Regions from separate parts of the Homo sapiens genome. Here all the other regions are reported to be linked to region 3. The links are microRNA targets in miRTarBase. Many come from high-throughput screens and were not tested one by one. Region 3 holds a microRNA gene; each other region holds the end of a gene's coding sequence.
What was found. The annotated mature microRNA hsa-miR-5189-5p reads UCUGGGCACAGGCGGAUGGACAGG and lies in region 3 at 2,285-2,308, opposite strand. An mRNA with a match to its seed (bases 2 to 7 or 8) in the 3' UTR can be bound and repressed. Matches are read on the target gene's strand: a 7mer-m8 pairs with bases 2 to 8, a 7mer-A1 pairs with bases 2 to 7 and ends in A, and an 8mer does both.

Region 1: miRTarBase lists PSMF1 as a target of hsa-miR-5189-5p. Seed matches in the 3' UTR shown: 7mer-m8 at 5,628-5,634 and 7mer-A1 at 5,094-5,100.
Region 2: miRTarBase lists MEI1 as a target of hsa-miR-5189-5p. Seed matches in the 3' UTR shown: 7mer-A1 at 5,973-5,979.

What each region holds. Positions count from the first base shown.
Region 1 is chr20:1,164,010-1,171,201 of GRCh38, reverse strand. PSMF1 (proteasome inhibitor subunit 1) reads right to left here. Exons shown (of 7, transcript NM_006814.5): 6 at 6,726-6,884; 7 at 1-6,173. The coding sequence ends at 6,122. Among named protein-coding and RNA genes, the nearest start is that of TMEM74B, 17 kb to the left of the region's middle.
Region 2 is chr22:41,798,103-41,805,294 of GRCh38, reverse strand. MEI1 (meiotic double-stranded break formation protein 1) reads right to left here. Exons shown (of 31, transcript NM_152513.4): 31 at 5,841-6,041. The coding sequence ends at 5,996. It overlaps CCDC134 (coiled-coil domain containing 134), which reads right to left and starts at 4,616. Exons shown (of 7, transcript NM_024821.5): 1 at 4,529-4,616. RefSeq lists silencers at 4,594-4,653, 5,244-5,333 and enhancers at 4,804-4,883, 4,954-5,033, 4,809-5,795.
Region 3 is chr16:88,464,059-88,471,250 of GRCh38, reverse strand. MIR5189 (microRNA 5189) reads right to left here and starts at 2,333; the gene lies at 2,220-2,333. The region is part of intron 1 of ZFPM1 (zinc finger protein, FOG family member 1); the gene reads right to left.

The DNA of each region.
Region 1 (7,192 bases), not on the chromosome of region 3:
CTCAGGAGCATGAGGCACGCTGTGCAAATAGGACTGACTGAGGAGCCTTAAGACCATCCTGGGGATTATGAAGCATCACTCCTTTCTCACACAAGTCCTGACGTGGTTTCCCAGCTTCTGGAATGGGTTTTGCCCAGGGACCCATGCACCTCACCTAGAGAGGATGTGAGGTCTGGGTACAGCAGTTCTACTGAAAAGAGCACTGACCTGGGTTCCAATCACGGTTCTGCCACCCCAGGGGGTAGGTGCAGCATCTCAACTAATGCCACTAGCTGTGTTTACCTTGGGGTTGTCAGGGGTACTACATGCGATGAGGAGAAGCCTAGCACGCTGTGTGCACCTGATAAATGCTTGTTTCCTGCACTGGGGGATATTCCAAGGTTCCTCTCTTGTCCTTGAGTCCCACCCTTATCTACCCATATGACTTTAGTAACAATTGCAGCAAGCACCCACCGAGCCCCAACTCTCTGTTAATAAGACACATTATTTGGTTGGATCTTGCAAGAATCCTGCAGGTAGGGGTGATGCTCATTTTGTGGATGAGGAAGGCCACACACTGAGAAAGGGAGGGCTGTGAGTAACCACGCTTGACTGAGTCTGAGACTCCTGCTTGACCCTGAGCAAATTACTGGACCTTCCCAATCCTTCCTTTTCTGGTACAGGAAATGGGGATAACACCTCATTATGGTTATGGTTTGAAGATATAATGTATGCTATAAAGGTGCTGCATTTTTAAAGATAACATGAAACACATCTAAGTGACCCATGGGGGCAAAGGAATGGAGTGGATACTGGGGGTAAAATCAACGAAAACTTCGAATCAGAGTTCATGCATGCATTAATCATAATGTGCCATTAACCAAGAGGACTGACTGGCTCAATTCTTTGTACTCGATATTCACGTAAAGGAAAAAGACATAGTCCATGTGAGCTTCTCTCACTTTAAGTTTACACAAATCTCATGGAGAACTTGTTAAAATGCAGATTCTCATTCAATGTCTGGGGTGGGGCTTGAGATTCTGCATGTGTAACAGGTTCCCAGGTGATGCTGCTGTTGCTGGTGGTCTGAGTAACAAGGAGGTAGGTCTTCCCCTCCCTTCTCAGTTCTCAAACTTGCATGATCATAGGACTCACAAAAGGAACTTGTCAAAAATGGATCTGAAGGCCGTTCCCTTGAGATCTAGATTGGGGCCCAGCATGTACTAATGTGTACTTAGAGCAAGCATCTCAGGAGATGGTTAGGCTCAGGCATGCAAGGCTGTGGTACCCATTTATATCATGGTCCATGGCGTAGACAACACAGAAGATTGGCTCACTAGACCTCTGTCCCAGTGCACCTTCCAGGAAAGGTGGGAAGAGGGAATAAAGACATCTCCCCAATATTCCATGCCAGTACCATTTGAGAGGCCATGTAGGTTCCAACAACCAGACGCATTCAATTGAGCCTTGAACTTGGATGAGCTAGCTGAGTGGTGTCCAGATGGCAGTGTGAAGGACATCTACTTTTTGGTGCAGATATAGGCAGCTGCTGTGTGGCTCTGGAGTTCCTAATCCCCAGATTGTAGCAATGATGATGTGATCCTGCTGCTCTCTGGACCATTACCTTTTTGGTTACAAAAGGTAAATTTCTGTTTACTGCAGCTGAATCCCAGGACTAATGCGTCAGCAGCATCCTCTCACTACCTTGTCCCTCTAAACCCACTGTGACTCTCACAACATCCACCTTAGGTGGCTCATCTGGAACGCAGCTGTTCAAATGGGCATCCAGTGACCTCTATTGCACTGCACCATCAGCCTCACGTTCCTCCAAGCAAGGGCTGGGCCTTCCACTTCGCACCTCCCATGGGCACTACCACTCGTGAGGTGTTCAAACCTCCTGTCATTGTTGCTGGGTCTGTCCTCAGTCAGCTAGGCCTTGCCACCCCTCACTGCCTACCATCCTACCTGCCACCCTTGCCTTTTGACCCACCCTCCAGGACAGATTCAGGGCCAAGTACGGCCGCAGTGACTTGGTCCATGTGTCCTGGGGTTAATGCAGTGACGCATTAGTCCTGGGGTTCAGATGCAGTAAACAGAAATTTACCTTTTGTAACCAAAAAGGTTACGGTCCAGAGAGCAGCAGGATCACATCATCATTGCTACAATCTGGGGATTAGGAACTCCAGAGCCACACAGCAGCTGCCTGTATCTGTGCCTTGTGGTATCCCAAGGGCAATAAAGGGCTGGGGACTTGGATGTCTGTCCTTGAATATCTCCTTTGGTGCAAAAAGTCAATAGTGGTTTATACACATGCAAGTTTTATGACAGAAACAGCTGGGGATATACATGTGGGGAATCTTCCCTTGCCCTGGTGGTGCCTTATTGGAAATGTACAGAAGTAGACAAATTTAGGTGACAAAGAATACTAACTGCTCCATAGATTCTAATATTCCTCCTGTGAAGAGAGGCATGGATCATTAATAGAATGTTATTAACAACAGTAGAAAGGGAGGCCATAGGAGAAACTAGGTTCCAAAGAGTGAGGCTGCGTGGAACTTGCTACCTATTTTCTAACTACATGTCAACAACCACTGACCATCCAGCACAGGAACACCATCGCCACTGTGAGCACAATACATTCTTGGAGTTTCAGTCTCAAGAGACTCATGACTTCACAACGGAGGTTGACAGACACTTATGACTGAGGAGATGAATGCAGTAAGAAACACTGCTAACTCTAAGAATTGGGGAAGAGACAAGCCAAGGAAGAGGAGGTGTGATGTGGGGGCTGCTGGTACATCATAGAAATGGTCCGAAATGGTCTATGGCACTTCACCACCAAAAGACAATTTAGAACCAGATCTTTATTCTACTTGTAATTCACTGGATAAACAAAGAAATTTCAAACCAAACCAAAGTGATGATCTGAATCTCATTAGACCTGAAGGTCATGAGAACTTTCTCTAGAGACAAAACCTGCCCTGTATCACATCCAGCCTAGAACCATCCCCAAAAGTCAAATCAACTGCTCTGCAGCTCACCAGCCATGTTCATCCCAAGGTGGTGATTATCAAAACCACAGATTGCTCCCCAAGGGGGACTGACTCTGGTCTCTGCCTTGCTTGGTGTAGGTCAAAATTCTTTTTTAAAAAATGGAAGAGAAGACCACAATGAGATGCTACTTCACGCTAACTAGGATGGCCATAAGCATGAAAAATAACAAGAGTTGGTGAAGATGTGGGGAAACTGGAACCCTCATAAATTACCAGTGGAAATGTAAAATGGTGCAGCTTCCGTGGAAAACAGTCTGACAATTCCTCACAAAGTAGAATATAGAGCTACCATGTGAACCAGCAATTCCACTCCTTGGTATATACCCAAATGAACTGAAAACATCTGAAACTCAAACAACTGAAAACTCAAAAACTGGTACACAAATGTTCTTGGCTGCATTACTCATAATAGCCTTTTTGTAGAAACAACCCAACTGTCCATCAACTGATAAAAGGATAAGCAAAATGTGATATATCCATACCATGGATACATGCTACAGCATGAATGAATCTTGAAAACATCACATGAAATGAAAGAAGCCAGACACAAAAGGCCATAATACTGAGTGATTCCACTTATGAGAACTGTCCAGAAAAAAAAAAAAAATCTTTAGAGACAGATGTTAGTGGTTGCCTGGGGCTGGGAGCAAGGGAATGGGGAGTCATGCCAATGGGTGTGTGGTTTCTTTTTGAGGTGGTGAAAATGTTCAGGAATTAGAAATGGTGGTGGATGTGCAACACTGTGAACATACTAAATCCACTGAATTGTATACTTTAAACAGGTATGTAAATTATGGGTATGTAAATTATATCTCAATAAAGCTGCTATTTAAAAAAGGAGGAACAGGTCACTTAGTGCTGATGTTTATTGTTAAGGCTCCAATCTTTTGGGTTCTACAAAATATACACCTGAAACACTCCAACTTGCTCCTTGATGATTACTCATGACTGGAAGGAGGGAAGTGGCCCAGATCAAAATAAGCACCATAAGCTTGACCAGGAAGTTCCTAAAGGCTCTATTCACTTCCTCCCATAGAACACCTAAGACAATGACTGTGTTTCTCAGTGTCCTTGATGCAAGGAAACTCACAAAAAAAATGGCCAATTCTGAAGGTGAATCACAATTTTGTTTTCAGAAAACAGAATTTTGTATATAACTATCTTTTCGGACTTTGCTGCTAGAAAATCTAAGTGGCAAATTTATTGTTTAAATTTTATCTTTTCCTCACATCAAGGTCCTAAAAGTTATCTACCTTCCCTGCTTCTATCTGATGGTCTCTATCATCCTTTAAATACTTCCTTTTATAATAAAGGATGTCTTTATGAGCAAACTGCTCTAAGTCCTTTTGGTTGCAAGAATGGTCCAATTCCAAAACAAAGACTAACACTCCTCCCATTTGCCATCTCTCAAAGGTTATGAGTAATGATTGAATCTGCACCTCTGCCTGATCTCTGGGTCTTTCTCCAAAGCAGAGATGTTCTAAAGGTTTCAAGGTGGTTGGCTTCCCTGACTCTGGGGTGTTTTACTAAATCACTGCTTGCCATGGGGACTGACAGAAATACCCAGGGAGCCACGCATGCTAGCCTCCCCACCCAGGCCCAGCTTCCATCTGAGACTGACCCTGGGCCTAGGCATCAGTTTAGTTTTCATCTACCTGTTCTCAGGCTAAGCAGATAGGCAATCTGAGGCTACAGAAAACAGCCTGGCAGATACCTCAGAAGAGCTACAGTAGCTTGCTTACCTACAGGTAAATAATAGGTCCTAATTTAGGGGAAGGAATCCAGGGAGCTGAGAAATGAAAGGATCCACATATGGTTGAAATGCTAGCTGCAGAGCGGAAGTGACTACCGCCTTGATCTCGTGCCTCTTAGCCTGGTGCTCTATCGTGCTCTTTCCACTCCAGAACAGGGCTCATCACTGCCCGCGTCTGTCAGGCCTCGGGCTGAAAAGGATCCGGAGAACACCAAAGGTCAGGTGGGCCAGGACACAAGGTGCAGGGCTCCCTGCTCCTCCCGAAGTTCAACACCACACTCAGAGGCAGCCCATGCTCCTGTGCTCTGTCTGGGCCCCATGGGGTCCAAAAACCACAGAGTTAGGCAAGAACCACACAAGGTTCAAGGGAAGTATGGCCTTGAACCATCATTCTTTTCCTCTGCCCCAGTTTATAGGGGTTACCAAACACAGAATGAGACATCAAAATGCTTTAGAGCAGGAAAGCCACCTCCAATTTCATAGGCTTGGCACAAGGCCCTAAGAGGAGAAGGAACTTGCTTAGGGTCATTCACTAAGTTAGTGGCAAAAATAAGATTAGCCTTCAGGTCTGCTCTGTTTTTTCCTTGGCTTTTTGACTACTGCTGCCCATGCACAGATGGACCTACAAAACTGGCCCAGACAGGAATAGCTGGAGGATTTTGCCTCATCAGAATGATGCAGTCTTTCCACAATGTTCCTGCCCTTGTGAAAGTCATTCTTGTGGCCTATGGGATTTCCAGTCACTCATTTCCATTCATGCAGCCAGAAGGGGACCCATCTTAGTGATGTCAGGAGCAATGGCAATTAATAAACGGAAGGTGCCTGAGAAGCAAGAATGGGCCCTGGGCAGGAAAAAGAGTCATTCAGCCCTACAGAAACTCAAACTCTAAAGTCTCATAAATGGAAGCAGCTATGCATTAATGTAAAAAGAAAAGTGGGAAACCGGCAACATGAATTCTGTATTGACATTTGGTTCTTAATAATAACATCCAAAATGCGTTCTGTTCTTATAGCACTGCATCTGGTCGAGGATATATGTTGCTGAAGGTTGCCGGAGTCTCCCTTGGGAAGTGGAGAGGAGCTGGTGGTGAAAGGGGAGGAGCTGATGGTGAAAGAGACACACTGATTTCTCTTTGGGAGCTATCTGCAGCTAGGTGGAGAGCTGCAGCAGGTGTCTTGGCTCTGATAAGGGGTGGGGAGGCTATCCCAGCCGGTCTGCAAACACATGAGCAGAATCCCTTGCCCCCAGCCTGCAAGAACATGGTTGCTGATGGGGACAGCGGTGGCAGCTCCAGGAGAATGGAGGGAAGCCTGGGATGTTACATTCTTGAGGCCTTCACAGGTACATGTCATCGTAGCCCGGCGGGGGGAGATGGTCTGGGTTAGGTCTGGAATGGAAAGAGGGGCTGATGAGTTGGAGTGATGGAGAGACCAGGGGAACATGGGCAGACATGACCCTGCACTGAGGGAGCCTGCCCTTCAACATGATGTGGCGGTGTGAGGAATTTAAACACATGCACTCAAGAGCCAGACAACCGGGGTTTGAATCCTGACTCCCCCGCTTGGTATAAGTTACCTAATCTTTCAGGGCCTCATTTTCTGCATCTATAAAATGTAGACGCCACCATCTACCCAAGACTGCTGAAGAAAGGATCCACTGAGTTTCTGCCACATACTTAACTTTCAAGAATTGTTAGTTCCTCCTACTTTGAGTCCTCCCCAGAGTGGAGCTGGGGAAAGAGAGGCACTGAGGGATAGGAAGCTCCTAGAAGGCTCCAGGGAGAAATCAGGCAGGGCCCTGGAGGAGGCTCCACTCTCCTGGCAGCAACAGGTGAAGGCAGCGGCAGCTCTGTGCCTGGGGCTAGAAACCTTCATTGCTGCCACACTGAACCAAGCTGCCATCAGGTCCTACTTCTCAGCATACCTGAGTGACTACGTACCCGGGTGGGCTGGTCCCAATGGGTCCAAAGGGGTCAAAGCGAGCTCCTGGGGGCACAGCGCCTGGAGGAAGTCGGTTCGGGAGGCCTGAGGAAGGGTCAATAAGTGCTCTTGGGAAGCCAGATCTCAGGGGATCCACAATCATGCCACCTCTCCGAGGCCTGAGGCAAGAAGAAAAGTTAGGTAAGCAGGTGTGGCAAGGACTGCCCTTGGAGAAAAGGCGAGGGAGGTTACAATGCACCAAGAATGGCTGGGATGTCTACTCTGGATGGCCCAAGCAGACATGTGGATGGCTGCCTGAGAGCCAGCGGAAAGTGGGCAAGGGCAAGAACACAAAGCCTATACGAAGAGCATACCTCACAGCTGAGTACTTCTGGCTCTGCAGGGGTTGGTTCTGCACAGTGCTTTTGGTTCTGTAGGGCTCCTCAAAATTGAGATCCCTGCCATATCATATACTCAAGAGGGCCAA
Region 2 (7,192 bases), not on the chromosome of region 3:
ACACCCAGCTAATTTTTGTATTTTTTAGTAGAGATGGGGTTTGGGCATGTTTCCCAGGTTGATCTTGAACTCCTGGGTTCAAGTGATCAGGCTGCCATGGCCTCCCACAGTGAAAGGATTACAGGCGTGAGCCACCATGCTGGTCTATTCATGAGTATTCTTACGGCAATGTGGTTATTTGCAAAAGTCCAGTAAGACTTTGCTCTCTCTCTTTTTTTTTTATTTTGAGACAGAGTCTCACTCTGTTGCTCAGGCTGGAGTGCAGTGGCACGATCTCAGATCTTGCAACCTCCACCTCCCAGGTTCAAGTGATTCTTGCGCCTCAGCCTCCCCAGTAACTGGGATCACAGGCGAGCACTACCATGTCTGACTAATTTTTGTATTTTTAGTAGAGACAGCGTTTCACCATGTTGGCCAGGCTGGTCTCGAACTCCTGGCCTTAAGCGATCTGCCCACTTTGGGCTCCCAATGTACTGAGATTACAGGCGTGAGCCACTGTGCCCAGCCTGTTCTCTCTTATAACAGAATACAACAAATATTGCTTATATTACCAGGGCTTTAACTAGAATATCATACTTGAGAATGTACATAGAAAGCCTGCCTTCAAAGATTCCCAGCCTTACAGTGAATGAGTAAAATCTGTCACTTCCTGGCAGGCCCAGGAACCTTAAGACTGTTAAGTAAAATCTAAAGTCTGCCTTGGTTTTGCTTCCTAGCCTTAAATGGTTTTTAAATCTGTTATTCCTATGTGATCACTGTAAAGAGAAAATTTTGTTTCTAAAAAAAGCTATAGTACATCTGTTATTAGACTGCAGCCCTGTGCATTGTTTTTGAGTTCTCATTATCTACTTGTATACTGGACTAGCTCCTGAATTCTAGATTCCTCCAATCTAACTTTCTTTCATGAAATTATTAAAAATTGGCACTGCTCTGTTCCTGAAGCCCTGTAAGTTGAAACTAGATGAACTTTAAGGTACAAGCCTTGTGCCTAATGTATGGGTCACACAGGAAGTTCACCAAACATCCCAATGCCATAACCAGAGACATTCAAACTGCAAACCAGGATAAGAAGTTGATGGTTTCATACTGTAGATAGCTTTTCCGAAGACACTGGAACAAGATTCCATATCATTTTGAGACTCTTACTCGTTTCTTTTTTTTTGAGTAGGAGTCTGGCTCTGTCGTCCAGGCTGGAGTGCAGTGGTGCAATCTCGGCTCAATGAAAGCTCCACCTTCCAGGTTCACGCCATTTTCCTGCCTCAGCCTCCCGAGTAACTAGGACTACAGGTGCCCGCCACCACGCCCGGGTAATTTTTTTTGTATTTTTTGTAGAGACGGGGTTTCACCATGTTAGCCAGGATGGTCTCCATCTCCTGCCCTCGTGATCCGCCCGTCTCAGCCTCCCAAAGTGCTGGGATTACAGGCGTGAGCCACCACGGTGGGCCTCTCAGAACTATTATGCAAACTGAGATTATCACATTGCTATTACTTCCTATTTTCCTATTTATTTATTTTACATTATTTTTGGAGACAGAGTCTCACTCTGTAGCCCGAGCTGGAGTGCAGTGGCACCATCTTGGCTCACTGTAACCTCTGCCTCCCGGGTTCAAGTGATTCTCCTGCCTCAGCCTCCCGAGTAGCTGGGATTACAGGTGTGCATCACCATGCCTGGCTAATTTTTGTATTTTTTGTAGAGACGAGGTTTCATGATCTTGGCCAGGCTGGTCTCGAACTCCTGGGTTCAAGCAATCTGGCCATCTTGGCCTCCCAAAGTGCCAGGATTACAGGGGTGAGCTATCGTGCCCAGCCCTATTTTCTTTTTAAACTTTATACCTATTACTTTTTAAATTTTTGTTGAAGTATCACTCCTGACAGAATAATGCTGGCCCAGAAGTTTGCAATGACAGCAAATGCCTATGGAACAGCCAAAATTGAACTTAACAATGAACTCCAGGTAGACATACCTTGAGAGCCACTCCTTCCAAACCTCCCTTGCTGCTCAAATGTGGCTAAAAGGTATTTGGGGTTTTTTGAGGCAGGGTCTCGCTCTGTCACCCACGCTGGAGTGCAGCGGTACAATCATAGCTCCCTATAACCTGAAACTCCTGGGCTTAAGTGATCCTCTACCCAACTGACTCCCGCACACTCCCCAACCAATGCCCAGATAACTTTTTTTTTTTGAGACGGAGTTTCGCTCTTGTTGCCCAGGCTGGAGTGCAATGGTGCGATCTCGGCTCACCGCAACCTCCACTTCCCAGGTTCAAGCGATTCTCCTGCCTCAGCCTCCCTAGTAGCTGGGATTACAGGCATGTGCCACCACGCCCGGCTAATTTTTGTATTTTATTTTATTTATTTTTTATTTTTTTATTTTTTATTTTTTTGAGACAGAGTCTTGCTCTGTCGCCCAGGCTGGAGTGCAGTGGTGCGATCTCGGTTCACTGCAAGCTCTGCCTCCTGGGTTCACGCCATTCTCCTGCCTCAGCCTCCCAAGTAGCTGGGACTACAGGCACCTGCCACCACGCCCGGCTAATTTTTTGTATTTTTAGTTGAGATGGGGTTTCACCGTGTTAGCCAGGATGGTCTCGATCTCCTCACCTCATGATCCGCCTGCCTCGGCCTCCCAAAGCGCTGGGATTACAGGTGTGAGCCACCGCGCCCGGATGTTATTTATATATATTTTTGTATTTTAGTAGAGACGGGTTTCTTCATGTTGGTCAGGCTGGTCTCGAACTCTCAACCTCAGGTGATCCGCCCGCCTTGGCGGTTGCCCAGGCTGGTCTTGAACTTCTGGACTCAAGTGATACTCCCTCCTTGACCTCCCAAAGTACTGGGATTACAGACGTGAGCCCCTGCTCCCAACCACTACAAGGGTTTTGACACTGACTCCTAGTCACCAGTCTCCAACTGGAGACTCCTAGTCTCCAACATGGCAAGAGACCAACAACCCAAGATAGGTCCGTCCCAGCACTGAGGGACCTAACTACAGGATGACTGATCAGTAAAGTTTTTGGAGAAAGATCTTGACCAAAAGGGGGAAATATGAAAGTTGTTAGAATCAAAACAGAGTCGTTTGTGTTAAAAACTCTGACAAATTTAAAGCATGATTCTCCAATGGGAAAAAACAAGAACAACAACTCTGACAAATAAAACCGAGGAAGGTTGTGAAAAGAGGGTTCTTATGCACAAATGACTGATAACAAGATCACAAAAAATGCAAAAACCACAACCCTGCACAAAGGCCACTGCAAACTTACACAGAAAAATCTTTCTGTGAGGACATCTGCCCTGCAACTGCCTGTCCAACCTCAGACTAGCACCACTCTTGCTATTCATCCTTGTAGCCAAGGATAACTATCTCAAAATAATCATGTAATCCTCATTTTTCCTTTTCAAAACCTTTGTCTTCCTTTACCTCCCCAAATACGTACACAGGTTACTATGGCACACATATTGTCACTACAATGTCTATTCCCAAGTAAACATCATTTTTTTAGAGTCTCTCACTCTGCTATTTAGGTTGACAGTACCTACCACACTCTAGGCACTGTTCTAGAGGCGGGAATACAGCAATAAATAAGCAAAAATCTCTGCACTCATGGTACTTGTCTCTAGTAGGGATAAGAGTTGATCAATAAACTTGTAAAATAAGCACAGAGGGATGAGAGGGTGTCGGTCAGGTACAAGATTACATAAAGTGGTCAGGAGAGGTCTCACACTCAGATTACAACTCCCCAATGTTACCAATGTGAAATCAAGGCACAGAAAAATGAGGTGACTGCCCAAAGTCACACAGCTATTCCCAGGCTGAACCAAGTGTCTGTTTGGCTCTAAGTCCAGTGCTCTGTCTTCTGACTCTTTGTAAATGAGCACAGGCTACCTGAGATCAGAGCTGGCTACTGAACTACCAGGACACCTGCCCCAGGGGAGAGATGCTCAGTTACAGACAGTGAGGGGCTGCAGAGATCATCCGGAGAACCCCCTACCCCCAAGCAGACGAGATAAGTGAAACCTAGAGAAGGAATAGTCCAAGTTCACCCAGGACCCTCCACATTCCACCTCCTGCTCCAAACTCAAGGGAACCAGAACCAGGCTAGGGCAAAACTTTAGGGGCCAAGGAGAATACCAGACAGCTGGCAATGACTGAAGCAGGTAGTGGGAAAGAAAAGCCAGAACAGCAGCCTGCGGGACAGGTCCTGCTTTCTCTACTGTTAAACTCACTTTTTCAGCCTCTCAATCCCGATCCTGCCGTATGCGTCACCCGGAGCTCCTCCTGGCTCAGCATGAGGCTCTGAACTCCTGCAGAGGTACCAGGTAGTGGCGGGCCTTGAGCCAGCTACCGGGGTCGGGGGCCCAGGTGGTTGACCCCGAGCCTTCGGAGCTCCCGGAGGAGGGAGCGAGCCTTCTCAAGGAACAGAGGCGTCCAGGTCCACGAAACTCCCTCCCCACCACCTGCAGCCGGTTCGAGGCCCTCGGTTCTCTCATTATCCTTCCCGGGAACCTGCAGCCCGCGGCCCCTACAGCCACCTACCTGGCCAGTCGGTGCAGGAAGGGCAGGTGGCCGAGTCCTGTGCGAGCAGCTAGGCTCGAAGGTCCAACAGGCTAACAGCAAAGCAACTGAAAGCGGGAGCAAACGGCTAGCAACCGAGCGCAGACCGCCGAGCTCCGTCCCGCCCACCGCGCTGCTCCCGGCCAATGAGCGCGAGCCGCCACTGCGGGGCTCCGCTAGCCTCACTTCCGGCCCCGCTCCACCGCCCCTGCCTGCCCCTCCAGGCTCTGGCGTGCCTCCAGCGCGCTGTGGGCACCATCCTCGTCCTGTCCCTCCTGCGGGCCCTGGGTACGTGGCCCTGGATTTAGCTTGTGTTGGAGGAAGTTAAATCTGTGGGTGGGGTCTGTGCCCAATTTAAGGCGTGAATCAGCAAACTGGGGTCCCAGCTCCTGTCGGCCGGGCGACCTTCTGCGCGCCCTCCCTGAAACTGTGTCGTCGTCTGTGGCCGAGTTTTTAAACTTTAGATCGCAACGTGAGTTTAGTGGGCGGTGACTAGCACTTTTGTTCTTCTTTAAGGACCTCAGAGACTCAGTGCAGGATTCGGGCATCCCCTCCTTGCCCCTCCGGTCCACCAACTAATAAGCCAAGTGCGGCGGGGGCTTCCTCGTCCGTTCGTTAGGCCGAGTGCAGCCCCACTTTTGCGCAGGATCAGGACAGTCAGACCCGAGAAGGCAGCGTGGCGTGGCCATCTCCGGGCCCGGGGCCCCTGCCGGGCGGGAAGGGAGCTGGAGGCCCGGTCTGGGCTGAGCTCCCCAGAACAGGCGCAGGGCAGGCACTGTCGAGCGCAGACCTCATGCCGGGGACCAAGCTGGACATGCATTCCCAGGATCTACCCACGAGGGTGCATAAACACCAGTTCTGATGACGGCTGTACGGGAAGGGACAGAGGTGACCTACTTTAGCCAGACAAGGGCTGAGGCTGGGACAGTTTCGTTCTGATAGGAAAGCTGAGAATTTGACCCTCCTTGCCTGGAAAGTTTACCTCTATCCACCTCCACGTGAGGCGAGGGAGCAGGTCAAGTGCCTCTGGGAGCTGTTGAATCGCAGCAGCCCCAACCCCTAGGCCTTTCTCTGCCCTGCCAGCCCCAGGATGGCCTGACTGGTGTTCTCTGAGTACAGCTGAGGCACCCAGCTGACTCCTTGAATGCTGTTACAAGAACAAATCCTGTCCCGTCCCTCCTTCCCTGAGGAGGCCATCAGTCTCCTTGCTGAAACAATCCCTTATCCAACTGGCTGAGAAACCAGCTCCTGGTAGACAAGGTAGTACAGTGTTTTTGGAGAGCTCGCGCAGGTATGTGAGTGTATCATTTTATTTCCTTATTCTATTTCAACAATAGAGTATATGGCTCCATATGAATAGCTTCAGCTGTCATCCATTTCCCCAACAATTATGCCCTTTGTCTCCAGGTCTCATTCTCTCTCCACTTCTGGGCCTTCAAGTCCTGAGGATCAGTTTCTGATGTGGGACAGGGATACAGCCACCCCTCCCAGGCAGCTGGCAGCAAAACATGAGAGGAAAACAGCAGAGAAGTGGGGCCAACCATGGGGGCATCACACTTCCAGAGCCCAAAACAGTCAAGAATGGTCAGGCAAGAACAGAAGTGCTCCTGAGAATAGTGGGATGGATTCTGAAATTGGGTCCTGAACACCTGGGCTAGGTAGTTGCTATTCAACAGGGAACTATTGCACGGAAGGGGCAAGGAAGAGAGCCAGGGAGGCAGCCAGAGGGGTGCAGAGGAAGCAAACTACCCTCACACACACCTCTGGACTGCAGTATCTCTGGACTGCAGTGTCTCTGGGTGCAACCAGCCACCTACCAGAGGGTCTCTGACCACTGCCACAGCCCCAAGCTTGCTTTTTTTTTTTTTTTTTGAGACATAGTCTCACTCTGCCACCCAGGCTGGAGTGTGCAGTGGCACAATCTCGGCTCTCTGGTCACTGCAATCTCCACCTCCCAGGTTCAAGTGATTGTCCTGCCTCATCCTCCCAAGTAGCTTGGATTACAGGCATGCACCACCATGCCCGGCTAATTTTTGTATTTTTAGTAGAGATGGGGTTTTACCATGTAGGCCAGGCTCGTCTCAGAACTCCTGACCTCAAGTGATCCACTCACCTTGGCTGGGATTACAGTGTGAGCCACTGCGCCCGGCCCCCAAGCTTTCTTTTTTTTTGAGACGGAGTCTTGGTCTGTTGCCCAGGCTGGAGTACAGTGGCGCGATCTTGGCTCACTGCAGCCTCTGCCTCCCAGGTTCCAGTGATTCTCCTGCCTCAGCCTCCTGGGTAGCTGGGATTACAGGCTCATGCTACCACGCCCAGCTAATTTTTGTATTTTTTAGTAGAGATGGGGTTTCACCATGTTGGCCAGGCTGGTCTCAAACTCCTGAGCTCAGGTGATCTGCCCACCTTGGCCTCCCAAAGTGCTGGGATTACAGGCGTGAGCCACTGCACCCGGCCATCCAAGCTTTCTTAAGAACATGGAAGTCACACAGACACACACACATTGTGTGTGTGTGTGTGTGTGTGCACCTGGCCATCCAAGCTTTCTTAAGAACATGGCAGTCACAGAGACACACACTATGTGTGTGTGTGTGTGTGTGTGTGTGTGTGTGTGTGTGTGTGTGTGTGTGTGTGTTGGGCTGAGGATCA
Region 3 (7,192 bases):
GAGGGTCAGCTGGTTGGGAGCTCAGGGAGTCCGGCTCTTGTCTGAATTCTCAGTGCCCATCGCGGTCAGGGCGGAGTAAGTGGAGAGGAAAAGTCTGGTCTATCTATCATGGCTGCAGGGGAGCTGGGCTTTCCTCCTCCCGGCCCCCTCGCTCCTTCAGAAGGCAGCCTCTGGGCAGCCCAGTATGTAGTTGGCAAGGGCACACGGGGAAGGGAATGCCTGTCGCGGAGGCTGGACCCCACCGGGTGAGGTACTGGCATCTGAGCTGGGCCCTGGGTCAGTGCGTCACGCTGCGTCTCCCGCCCCTTCCTGGACGACCTCATCCCCTGCTCGGAGCTCCCACTGTGCGCTCGGCGAGGATGTGTTTCCCTATGCCACATCCTCACCTGTCACTCAGCGTCACCACCCGGCCCTCCACACCGTGCCACATCCTCACCTGTCACTCAGCGTCACCACCCGGCCCTCCACACCGTGCCACATCCTCACGTGTCACTCAGCGTCACCACCCGGCCCTCCACACCGTGCCACATCCTCACCTGTCACTCAGCGTCACCACCCGGCCCTCCACACCGTGCCACATCCTCACCTGTCACTCAGCGTCACCACCCGGCCCTCCACACCGTGCCACATCCTCACCTGTCACTCAGCGTCACCACCCGGCCCTCCACACCGTGCCACATCCTCACCTGTCACTCAGCGTCACCACCCGGCCCTCCACACCGTGCCACATCCTCACCTGTCACTGAGTGTCACCACCCGGCCCTCCACACCACCAGTCCCCCAACAACAGCCTCCCCAGTGGTTCTGCCACAGAGCACGTCAGACCCCTGTGTTCACTCTCCCTCGTTAGGCTGGGGTTCCATGAGGTCACCTGGGGTCCCTGGACCATGCCCAGCACACAGCAGGCACTCAGTACAGGTTTGGAGAGTACAGGGGACACCCGTGGGCATCCAGAGGCTGCCCGCCCCAACCCGTCCAGCAGCCCTGTCCCCAGGACAGGTGGGGTGGCCCTGACAGCAAGGACCCCGCAGGAGTGAGTCACAGCCCCAGCACAGGGACAAGGACCGTGGCTCTCCACAGGCGATGCTCCTACACGGGAGGGGCCTTTGCCCAGGACAATGCTGGCTCTGGAGGCCCTGGCTTTTTCTCCGTTTCCTTTTTCCTTCTGCTTGCTTTGCCTCTGGGGACACAGCCAGGCACAGGGAGCAGATCCAGAAATCAGCTGGGGAGTATTTATGGAGCACCTACTGTATGCCCCAAGCTGTCCTGGGAGAGGACAGAGCTGCCTGCATGTGTGGAGACCCCTCTGCAGACTGGGAGGGCTGCGTGGGGAGATCCTCTGGGCTGGGCACGCACCTCTGACCCTCACCACGTGAGAGGCACTGCACCCCACGTTAGGGGGTGGGGCCCTGGCCAAGGTGATGTCTGGTTCTGGTCGGACGGCCCCTCCCTACTTCCTCTCCTTAGATCTCAGCCCAGACTCTTTCTCTCCTCGCCCCGCCACTATTTTCCACTTACACATTTTTGACAAACACCCACACCTGTGGCTGATTTTCAGGTGCCGTGGGAGCTGACAGGGCCTCCAGCCAGGTCTCAGGCCGGCGGAGCCTGCCTCATCCTGGTCTTGCCAGCAAGACCCACTGTGCAGTGTGGGTGGATGCAGAACACAGGTGCATGCCCCCTAAGGTGTCCTAAGCCCCCTGTAGACATGGTCTCCTGGCACATGAATTTCTGACAATGGGAAATCTGGAAGACCCCAGGTTTCCAGGCTATGCCACAGCCACAGACAGGAGGACCCCCAGAGAACCTGCCACCTCAGCCTCATGGTGTGGAAGGGGAAACTGAGGCCCAGGCCGGCAAGGGGCTTGCTGAAGAGCCCAGAAACCATCCTGGGAGGCAGACCTACTAGACCGCCTTCCGGTTTTACAGATGGGGAGGCTGAGGGTGGGCAAAGGGGTTGGGACTGTCATTCATTAAGATGGTGCCACGTCCCTGGCCCGGCCGGCACTTCAGAAGCTTGGCAGAATGAGGTTCCGGATGGAAGTCAGCGCGGGGAGAGGGTGGAGCGGTGGGGGGCAGCCTGCAGGAGGGTCTGGAGTGGGCCCAGACATGGGGGTGGGAGGCTGGCTGGCCCCAGGGCCGTCCCTGCCGGGTTGTGAAACTCGCTGTTCCCATCTGGGAGTGGCTGCTGGCTGCACTCCTCTCGGGAACTCCTGGGTCCTGGTCCCCAACTGAGGCCACGTGGGTCTGGGCTCTGACGGTTGGCAGGTCATCCAGAGGCCAGCCTGTCCATCCGCCTGTGCCCAGACAGCGAGGCCCCTAAAAGGCGGGCCCTTCCAGAGCCGGTGGTGGTGGTGGCAGAGGTCTCCCGTCCTGGGGCAGGGTCCAGGATGGGAACTACTCCCCCAGGTCAAGGGCAGCCCCTGGAGGAGGCCCTGCCCCCACACAGCAGCTCAGCCAATCCCTGGGCCTCACCCCTGCTCATTTGCATACCCCATTTCCATTGGCTGCCAACAGGCTGGTTAGGACAGTGGTGCCCTGGCCATGGGGGTGGGGCTCTGGGGGGCGGGGCCCTGGGGGTATCAGATTCTGGGTGACTGGTCCCAGCCCCAAGTCTAGGGTCAGAAAGCTGCATGGGGCTGGTGGGGGGCTTCAGTTACAGTGCAGGCTCTCCCCTTTCCTCGAAGGCTCCCTGACATCCATTCAGGGATGACTCTGAGTGGGAAAGATACTGGTCCAAGGTCGTACAGCCAAGAGGCCGGCACAGCTGGGACCTGGCCCCAAGTCCCAACCCCTCTCCAAGGCCGGCCTCTTTTCTCCTGTGGGGGCCTGTTGAGAGCGACTTCTTATTTTTGGCTGCCTTGTTTCAGGGAGGGCTATTTGGGGGCTTTCTTTGCAAAATGATGATGATGATGACTTTCAGAGCACCCCGAGTGCTCAGCTCTCCCTCTAGATCTGGTGGCTCTGTGCGCCGCAGGCAGTGGGCTCGCGGGTGCGTCGGGACGGTGGGCTCGCGGGTGCTTGAGGGGCGGTGGGCTCGCGGGTGCTTGAGGGGCGGTGGGCTCGCGGGTGCGTCAGGGCCTGTGGGCTCGCGGGTGGGTCAGGGGCAGTGGGCTCGCGGGTGCGTGAGGGGCGGTGGGCTCGCAGGTGCGTCAGCGGCCGGTGGGCTCGCGGGTGGGTCGGGGCGGTGGGCTCGCGGGGGCGTGAGGGGCGGTGGGCTCGCGGGTGTGTGAGGGGCGGTGGGGGGCTCGCGGGTGTGCGGGTTGAGAGTGTGTTCTCACTTTTGTTCCTGGCATTAGGGTGGGGTGAGATAAGGGGAAGGGGGGCCGCTCAGCTCGAGCAAGCAGATAGATAACGGCGATAGCACCTCCTCCACCGCACAGCACGCATCGCCCTTTTTTATCAAGTTCTCTTTTCTTCTTTTTCGTTGTAGGGTGGTAGAGTAGAAAACACCCCACCCCCACCTCCCAAAGCCATGGAACTAGGGGGTGGGGGCCTCCCCATCTCAGGTCCCAGCCACAAAGGGCACGGGTCAGCTTAGGGCCCGCTGTGCCCAACACGCCCAGCAGCCAGCCCAGAGCCCGTGACTGGAGGAGGGAGGGGATCCAAGGCAGCTGCGAGGCCCGGGGTCCGGAGGTCCCAGCATGACAGGAGCAGCTGCGCATGTGCCCTGCAAGGCAGGTCTCGCGGTCTACACCATCAGCTCCTTGAAAGGACTCTGAGAGGGCGACTGGCACCCCATTTTATAGGAAAAGGCAGCAAAGCCCAGAGAAGTGAAGTGTCACTGGGGCGGGTGCTGAGCTCCTTCCTCGAGAAGCCCTGGGTGGGCACCGCTGGGAGGGGTGGGGAGACCTCAGGGGGGTTGGCCATGGCCTGCAGGGCAGGCTTAGCGGTGTCGGCCCTATTTGACAGATGAGGAAACTGAGACCTGAGACTCTGGGATGTGTGTGAGAACCAGGGCCATGGGGACAGATGCTGTACCCCCTGCTTGTTTGCTGCGGCTCCTGGTCTGGGTGACTGTGGCAACTATGGGGGACTGACAAGGGGTAGACTCTTGGATCACAGGGACAAATGTTCTGGAGCCACTCTGGCCGCTGTGTGATGGGACGAGGCCCTAGGTGACATCACTGAGGTCATCGGCACACTGTAGCCGTTGGCGGAAAACCGTGCAGGAAGAATGCCAGTAGGATTCAGGGAGGGTGGGCTGCGGGCAGAGAGGGCTTTGGAGAGGTGGCCCCACCCCAGGGACCCTCGCCCCGGCTCGTGTCCCCCCATTAATACCACCGCCGTTTTGGGGTTCACTGAGCCCTGCCGCACAAGGGCCCCAGATGCTTTACCCACTTCTGCCCTAATTCCTCAAAGGCCAAGGAGGCTGGAACTGTGATCATGCCCATGATACAAGTGAGGAAACTGAGAGGCTGCCGGCCAGGGGGCAGGATTTAAACGCTGGTCACTGGAGCTGACATTTACCCCCCTCCCCCACATACACACCCCACTGCACTGGAAATAGCTGACTTCCTTTTAGAATATTGAAACAAAACCAAACCCAAAAGTTAGAAAGAAACCAACTTTCTCACCAAAGGAGCTTATTTTCTGGGGACAGATGAAATGAACCCAAGAAACAAGAATAGAGGCAGGCCAGCCTCCGCCCATCCCCTCCCACTGCCAGGATGGGCTGTGCGGCCCTCAGCCGTCCCCTGCCCTTTCTGTGCTTGGCCTTTCTCCCTGAAAGGTACGGGTGAGCCCCCTGGGAGGCTCGTGGGCTGCCCCCCACTGCAAACACCCCAGAACCTCCAGCCAGGATGGAGACTCTGACCTCGGCTAGACTCTAAGCCAGAAGCCAGGGTCCCTTCTGTTCTCTTCATGCTGTGTGATCTTGGGTGAGTTACTCAACCTCGCTGAGCCTTCAGTTCTCTGAGGAGAATGAGGTCATAGGCGCCCCTCCCAGGGCTGCAGAGTACTCCATGCCAGAACTGCCGGGGCTGGGTAACGGAGCTGTTGTCTAACCACGGCCGCCATCAGGATCACTACAACTGGGGGTCCCAGAACCACCCAGAAATGTCACCATCCACACCGCCCCAGGGATCCTGCCTTTGGGTTCCCAGAGGATCTCATTTCTCAAGAGTCACTCAAAATATAAAATCCAGGAAGGGGGAAATGGCAAGCTGGCCTGCACCCACTGGGAGCCCAGGCGGCTCCACAGGAAGCCTTTCTGCCAGCGAGGGAGCGGCCGGGCCACTGCCTCAAGGAGACATCGTAGCTGCGTGGCCTTGGTTTCCCCCGTGCACGGCGGGCCCCTTGGCACCCTCCACCCCATGGCTGCTTCACCTGTCCCTCCTCCACCCCTATGGCTGCTTCACCTGTCCCTCAGCAGGAGGATTAGCCGCACGCCGGGCTCTAATCGCCGCTAATCGCTCCATCAGCGCCGGATCTCGGATCAGCTGAAGGAGGCGGCTTTATCCAGACAGACGCCGCGATGGCACCTGAGTCCCATCTGGGCGCAGCTGTCAGGTGCAGCAGCAGGGCCAGGGATGGCTGGGGACAGGGTGGGAGCCAAGCCGGGGAGCACACAGGGTTTCTCAATGCAGGCAAGCCCCTCCCCCTCCCCAGCTGGCCAATGGGACTCTGCCTGGGCCCTCCACATTTATTAAGTACCTACTGTATAACCGGGCACTGTTCTAGGCACCAGGGGGACACCAGGGATCCACACAGGCGAAATGCCCACCCTGGGGCATTGCATTGCTGTCAAGGCTGTGAGGAGGGCCCCGTGCTCCCACTCATTTGACAGGTGGGGAAACTGAGGCACAGAGACATGGCCCAAGACAGGCGCAGCCAGCCAGGCCCAGACTTCTGGCTTTTCCTCCACCCTTTGCCCACCACCAGGCTGCTGGGAGGGGCACTTCCCCGACAGAGGGCTTCCCCGCAGGCCTGTGGGCCACGGTTACTAGCTCCCAGCACCAGCCTGTTTCCAGCATTATGACATGTTTCTGCTGTTTGTCTTCTGAGCAGACGCTGCGCCCTGCCTGTGTCTCCCCAGCCCGGGCCCTGCTGTGAGCTAACTCTGCACCTCCGGACACGGGGTCTGTGCAGAGGCCGCTGCGGTGTAGGCCGGATGCTCTGTGGTTCATGGTCTGGCCCAGGGGCCAAAAGAGGCTGGGAGAAACGGCCAAGGGCTCCCACCCACCCCAGGCCCCCATCCTCCTCACCCTCCTCCCTACCTTCTTTTTCAAAAACATAATTTATCTATGTATTATCAAGAAATCCAGACACTTTAATCAGTGAGCTATGAAGTCAGAATTTCCATTCTTATCTTCGGGAGGAGTGGAAATGGACGAGATAGGCAGCGGATCGCTGGTGGGGAATGTTAATGGGTGGAGAGGCTGGGCTATTGGCCACCGAGAAGCTGGTATCTCCTCCATTATCAAGGCTGTATCTCACTCACCATCTTGGCGCAGTAATGGGGCCAGTTCAACTTTCCCAGTTATCGCAGGAGCTGAAACCTGTGCCCGCCAGAGGCCCGGACCAGGAGACAGTGCAGGGCGGACCAGGCCGCAGCCTGTAGAGCTGGAAGGGTATGGGAATGATCGGCTTGAGCCAGGGCCCCAGAGGGCCTGGGTGCCCACCGACCATTGCCATGGCGGGGGTAGGGGGTCTCTCTGCTTTCTGGGAAAATGTTTGGTTTTGGTGGAGCTGGGTGTGGGCCTATGAGCAATGGGGGAAACTGAGGCTGACTGCCTCAAGGTCCCAAGAAGGCTGGGGTAGTCCCAAGCCTTCCTGAGCTGTTCCAGGCCCACGAAGTGGAAAGACGGTAGGTGGTGTTGGGGACAGCAGCAGGACTGAGGTGCAAACACCCCGTCCTCCTGCCTTGGGACTTGCAGGGTGTCCCGTCCCCTCTGGGAGCATATCCAGGGCCCAGGCCTGGAGTCGGGAACTATCAGTCATAAACAGGCAGCCTGGGGGCACCTGGGGGCCCTGCCCCTGTGGGTCTCAACCTTAGGCACGGCTCACATGCCTCGGCCCCTCGGGCCCAGGTGTGCTCAGTGCACCCTTAAATTTTGAGGGGCTGCTCACCTCTCCTCAGGGCCCTTCCTTGAGACGCGGCACCCAGGCCCTAAACAGAGCACCTCTGTCCACTGGGAAGAAGGAGCCTCCAATCCATTCCTTCCAGCCCCCAAGGATTGACCGATGGACC